2 separate regions of the Homo sapiens genome follow, and region 2 is linked to region 1. The links come from fine-mapping of genetic effects on gene expression. A gene starts in region 1. The other region holds a variant in brackets. All regions are shown on one strand. Distances are from middle to middle.

The links.
Region 2: its variant is fine-mapped to the expression of MED6 in whole blood (TOPMed, PIP above 0.99).

What each region holds. Positions count from the first base shown.
Region 1 is chr14:70,599,564-70,602,442 of GRCh38, forward strand. It overlaps MED6 (mediator complex subunit 6), which reads right to left and starts at 1,092. Exons shown (of 8, transcript NM_005466.4): 1 at 1,053-1,092. The coding sequence starts at 1,074. RefSeq lists an enhancer at 594-1,793.
Region 2 is chr14:70,637,161-70,640,081 of GRCh38, forward strand. All of the region lies in intron 1 of TTC9-DT (TTC9 divergent transcript), which reads right to left. Among named protein-coding and RNA genes, the nearest start is that of TTC9-DT, 2.7 kb to the right of the region's middle. The variant C/G (reference allele first, on the strand shown) is at 1,351.

The DNA of each region.
Region 1 (2,879 bases):
AACACCTTTCTGACTTCATCTCCTTCCCACATCCTCTCTCACTACCCTCCAGCCACACTGACCTCCTTGCTGTTCCTTTAACACACCAAACACACTCTTATTTTAGAGTCTTTGCCATGATCCTAACAATCTGAATTATAAGTAAAACATTTTATAAACTAAATATTTCTCTTTTTTATTCTGTAGCAAGGCAACATGTTGACATAGCCCAAGCATTCTAACAGCATTCTAACCATCAGCAAGTGATGAAATAAATAATGAAAGACACGTATGTAAAATCATGATCCAGAAGTGCTGCAGATCGCCAGATAAGTATAAATGAGAATATTTGTAATAAATGTGTTAGACCCCAATCCAGTTAATATTAAAAAAAGGCATCTCAAACATCTCCCTTTAAAAATCAAGTACTATATACACAAAAACAACTCTACATGCTCCCCAAGATCAAGCAGCAGTTAAGGGGTGACATCTCCATACATTTATTCACTGACTGATTCAATATTTGAGTACTTCTGCAGTTCAGCTGTGAAAAAAATACGACCCCTGCCCATAATAATTGCTGGACGTTCGATGTAAAGTATTATCGACTCAAAAAAAAAGAAAATATCTGGGATTCATGCTCAGGGACCCGTGTGGCGCGGTCTAAAGAATTAGGCAGCCACCATGCCAAGTCCCAAGAGATGAATCAAATCAAGTTGGCTTATTACCCCATTCCCTTCTCTGCCTAAACGCCATTCCTTCACTCCAATAGAATAGCCCTAATGTTGTTGCAGAGATACGTGTGTAGAACAAAACTCCAGCTCTGAAAGCTCAAAACCCAGAGCTTCTTCCAACCCCTTCTCTCCGACGCTTCCAAGAGACGCTCCAAGAACTCAGAAAAAAAAAAAAACTCGTCAACGTTTCGCTAGATCACAGCCTTGGGTTGTCCACAAAAACCACTCAAAAAAGCTTGAGACTTCACACAAAGGAACCTAAACCTTGAAACCGCGAGCTATAACATCCCAAACTGGTCCACAGACAATCAAGAGACAAAATATAGCAATACAGTATACCTCGGATATCCACCGCCGCCATAATTCCGAGAGCGTTTACAGGTTCTCTTTCCGGCGCAAAGTAAACGTAAGCCTAGGCCGCCGGAAGCAGCGGGTTGAAGAGAGTGCGCATGGGTGAGGAGGGACGTAGAGCGGAAGAGGGGGCGGGGCGGGCAGGAGAGAGGCAGGGGGTGGAGGTGCGGGTGGGAGGGGAGGAGACGCGAGGGGGCGGAAAGCGGGAGAGGCGCGGGAGGCGGGAAACGTGGGGTGGGGTGGGGTGGGGTGGGGTAGGGGAATGGGAGGGGACGGGACGCAGAAAGATTGGTGCAGGGGAGCAGGGAAAGACTAGAAGAGGGATGGGCCAAAGAAGGAGAACGGGAGGGCGGATTACTGGGAAAAAAATTAGAAGACTTAGAGGACAGAAAGACCGAGTGGAGTCCCGCCCCACGCCCACCACTGATGGAAGAATTCTGCCTTGATCGTCTGTGATCGTCAAGAAAACAAATTCTGATGCTGTAGAGTTGTGCTTGGGAGTGTCTCTTAATTTTAAAAGCTCCCCGGGTGTATCCACTGAGCTATCAGATTTAGGAACGATGGTCATTTATATTTTTCTCCCTGCCTCAGGTATTGGGATGGGACAGGACTTAAGAATTTGGGAGTCATTGGCTTTTATGTGACTAAATCCATTAAAAATCTAAACCAATTAAAGAAGCCTCTGAGAAAAATTTCACAACACAGGAAATGCTTCTGAAGTGAAATATTAATAAGATTAAGAGAAAGGGAATACCCCTGGGTCCCAGAGTAATGAGCAAATGTCTGCATTCCAAGTAGTCTGGAGTAGGTAGCAAGGCTCCAAAGAGGGAATGATTCTGTGTACGGGGAAGCTACAGAAAGCCTCAGATTCTCAAGCTTCAGTGTGGCTCTGTAAAAGCAAAACGATACAGAAATATGCAAACAACACACAGATACTAGGAAGAGGATGCCAAAATCTGAAGGAGGGATGAGGGCGGGTGCCTACATCTTCTCCAAAACTTAGGTACTGTGAAGACTCCCCAAGAATTTAACCACAACCCAGGAGCAAGAGGGGAAGACCAGAAATTTAATTGGGATTTTCAACCTCATAGACAAGGAATTAAAAATTTGTTAACTCCGTAGAATAAAAGTACGTTGCCTGTACATTTCAGTTTGGGAATTTTCTGCCTGAGATGGTATGTATAAAATAGGTGTCCCAACAGAAGTATGTGCATGCACAGAGTAAAGTTTTGAGAGAGAATTTTTCAGGAGGGCCTGGTTGGGAGCCTAGTGGGAGGACATTGCAAAAAGGAAGAGTATCGTGTCCAATAAAAAGTGTGATCCATAAAGCTTTTTGTTTTGTTTTTCTAGTTTTTTGTTTCCTTGTGTTTTGATTAGGCTAGAAGGAGATTAGGAAGAATAGTGACAGAATGCAGATCTGTAGATAATAAAACATATGGTATGCATGGTAAATAAGACCTGGAAGCTCAACCTTTATTTTGTAGGCAATGGGAGAAATGTGATCAAGCTTCCATTTTAGAAAGATAACTTGAGGAAGACAGGGCAAGGTGGCTCACGCCTGTAATCCCAGCACTTTGGGAGGCCAAGATGGGAGGATTGCTTGAGCCCAGGAGCTGGAGACCAGCCTGGTCAAGATAGCGAGATCCCATCTCTATTTCTTTTATATTAATTGTTTCAGTTAATAAAGAAATATAAATTAAAAAGTGTGGTAACAAAAACAAGAGAAGACAAGATAGGGAGGAAGCCACTTTGGGTAGGACAGTCAGGACAGGCCTCTCTGAGGAAGTGATACCTGAGATGAGACCTGGAAGATGA
Region 2 (2,921 bases), 38 kb after region 1:
GATTCTTTTTTATATTTTTTGTATTTTTTTATTTCAATAGCTTTTGGGGTACAAGTGGTTTTTTGTTACACGAATTGTATAGTGGTGAATTCTGAGATTTTAGTGCACCCATCACCCAAGTAGTATACATTGTGCCTAATGTATAGTTTTGTTTTTGTTTTTTTTTATCCCTAGGCCCTCCCCACTCTCCCCATTCTGAGTCTCTAAAGTACCACTCTGTATGCCTTTGCGTACTCATAGCTTAGCTCTCACTTATATATGAGAACATACGGTTTTTGGTTTTCCACTTTTATGTTACTTCACTTAGAATAATGGCCTCTGGCTCCATCCAAGTTGCTGCAAAAGACGTTATTTCGTTCCTTTTGATGGCTTAGCAGTATTCCATGGTATATACATACCACATTTTATTTATCTACTCATTAGTCAATGGGAACACAGGTTGCTTCCACATCTTTGCAATTGTGAACTGTGCTGCTATAAACATGCATGGAGAAGCACTGAGTTTCTGACTCTGAAGTTCATGCTCAGATTTTCTGTCATTTGGGTCTTTTCTCACTTCCTAAAATAGTGCTCTGCATATGGCCAACGGTTAATGGAAGAACGTTTAAGAAATTCTTGTTGGCATTTATTTAATTCCATTTGAAGGAAGAAGACCATTTTTGGGAAGCCAAAACACGTTTACCAATGAGTGGCTTAAACAGAGACAGAAGTATACTAACAACAAGCAAACAGAACGGTTCTAGACCTACACAGACAACTCTGTGGAGCGGGACAGATGGGCATAGTAATTCTACTCTCACTCCATGCTACCGCTCTTAATATTCCCTCCCTTCCTCGTTCATGCTCGCCTTTATCGGAGCTAGTACTAAGCTCTTGTGTTGAGTTCTGCTTCATACACAGGTTAGTAACGCATGGGTTCCATGTTTCTCAGAGCCGTGTCCTCAAACCCAAAATCTAAGAGTGAGATACTGCACCATTAAGCCAGCACACAGTGGGAAAATAAAAAGCAATTTGGCATGTCAATATTTCTTAGCTTTAAATGGTTGTGACCACTGTGACCCAATTCACGTCTTATTTCTGACAGGAGCCAAATTCCAGGCCTGGGTCTTTATCCAATATTTGCCTCCTGTAGCCTGTCCTATCTAAGTTATTTTAAGGACTGGTAACAACAAAAATTCGGAGTGCCCAACCTCTAATTTCTTCTCTTTGCTCTACCTGATGCAATACCTTAAAGTAAAAAGAGCCGGCAATTGGCAAATATTTATGAATTAACTGGAGTTCTGTCACAACATTCTTATGGGATCCAACAGTGACAGGATTTAAGAGCAATAATTAAAGTTACCATCTGTC[C/G]AGCACTTATGCTTCACAACAACCCTATGAAGTAAGTAGTAGTCCCACTTAATGAATGAGGAAATTAAGTTTTCAGAAGTTGAATAACTTGCCCAGGAAATAGTCAAGATAGAATTCCAGATAACACTTGTCTGAGTCTAGAATCTTTTAACCACTGAACTTATACGATGTCTCACTTGTAAGATACCACTGCAAACGCACTGTGTGAGCAGAGAATCATCTCCCCTCTCCAGGGATAATGTGAGGATCAAATGAGATGAAAAATGTCAAAGCATTTAGGAAAGTAAAGAAATACAAGACATAATTTAGCACGCTAAAATTGTGTCCAACTAAAAGCCCTAGGTTCTCTATAAATGACAACGGTATATGTGAAAAATGTTCACCTTTATAATTAGAGCTATCTCATTTAATTCTATATACATTTTTAATTTATCAAATTAGAAAATATTTCTTAAGAGCTCACCCTTGACGTTGGCAAGGAGGTGGTGAAACTAGCATATTGCTGGTGGCAGCACAAGTTAGTACAATCTTTCTGAGAAGCAAGTTGACAATGTGTTTCTAGACTTTATTAAAACTTGAAATAATGTTTTGTAAGAAAAAATAAATTAGGAAAAAAATTTAAGTATAAAGATAGTTAAGAGCATAGATTCTGGAGCCAAATTTCTTGGGTTTAAGTCCCAGCTCCACTACTCATTAGCAGTGTAATCTCAGGCAAGTCTCTGTGACTTGGTGTCTAAAATGAGGATAACAATAGCACTGATTTCACTAAGTTATTATGAAGATTCAGTGGATTATTATATGTTAAGTGCTTAACCCAATGCCTGGCACAATGTAAATACTATATGTAAGTGATATCTATTATTTTTATCTCAGTGTTATTTATAATAGCAAAATCTTTCTGACTATAGAAGAATGCTTAAGTACACTATGGTACACTTACAGTGGAATTTTTTTTTTTTTTTTTTTTTTTGAGATAGAGTCTCCCGCTGCGGCCCATGCTAGAGTGCAATGGCACGCTCTTGGCTCACTGCAACCTCTGCCTCCCGGGTTCAAGCGTTTCTCCTGCTCAGCCTCCCAAGTAGCTGGGATTACAGGCAGCCACCACCATGCCCAGCTGGTTTTTGTATTTTTAGTACAGATGGGGTTTCACCATGTTAGCCAGGCTGGTCTTGAACTTCTAGTCTCAGGTAATCCACCCACCTCCGCCTCCCAAAGTGCTGAGATTACAGGCGTGAGCCACTGCACCCGGCCACTTACAATGGAATATTGTACAGAATATTAAAAATTAGGCTTTAAAAGAATATTTAATTACATATAATGTAAAGTAAAAAGCACAGGAAGCAAGCCTGGGGAACATTGCAAGACCCTGTCTCTACAAAAAAAATAATTAACCAGGGGTAGTGGTGTGCACCTATAGTTGCAACTTCTCAGGAGGCTAAAGTAAGAGGTGAGAGGATCCCTTGAGCCCAGGAGTTTGAGGCTGCAGTGAGCAATTATCATGCCACTGCACTGCAGCCTGGGTGACAGAGAAAGACCCTGACTCAAAAATAAAAAAGAAAAGAAAACAACAA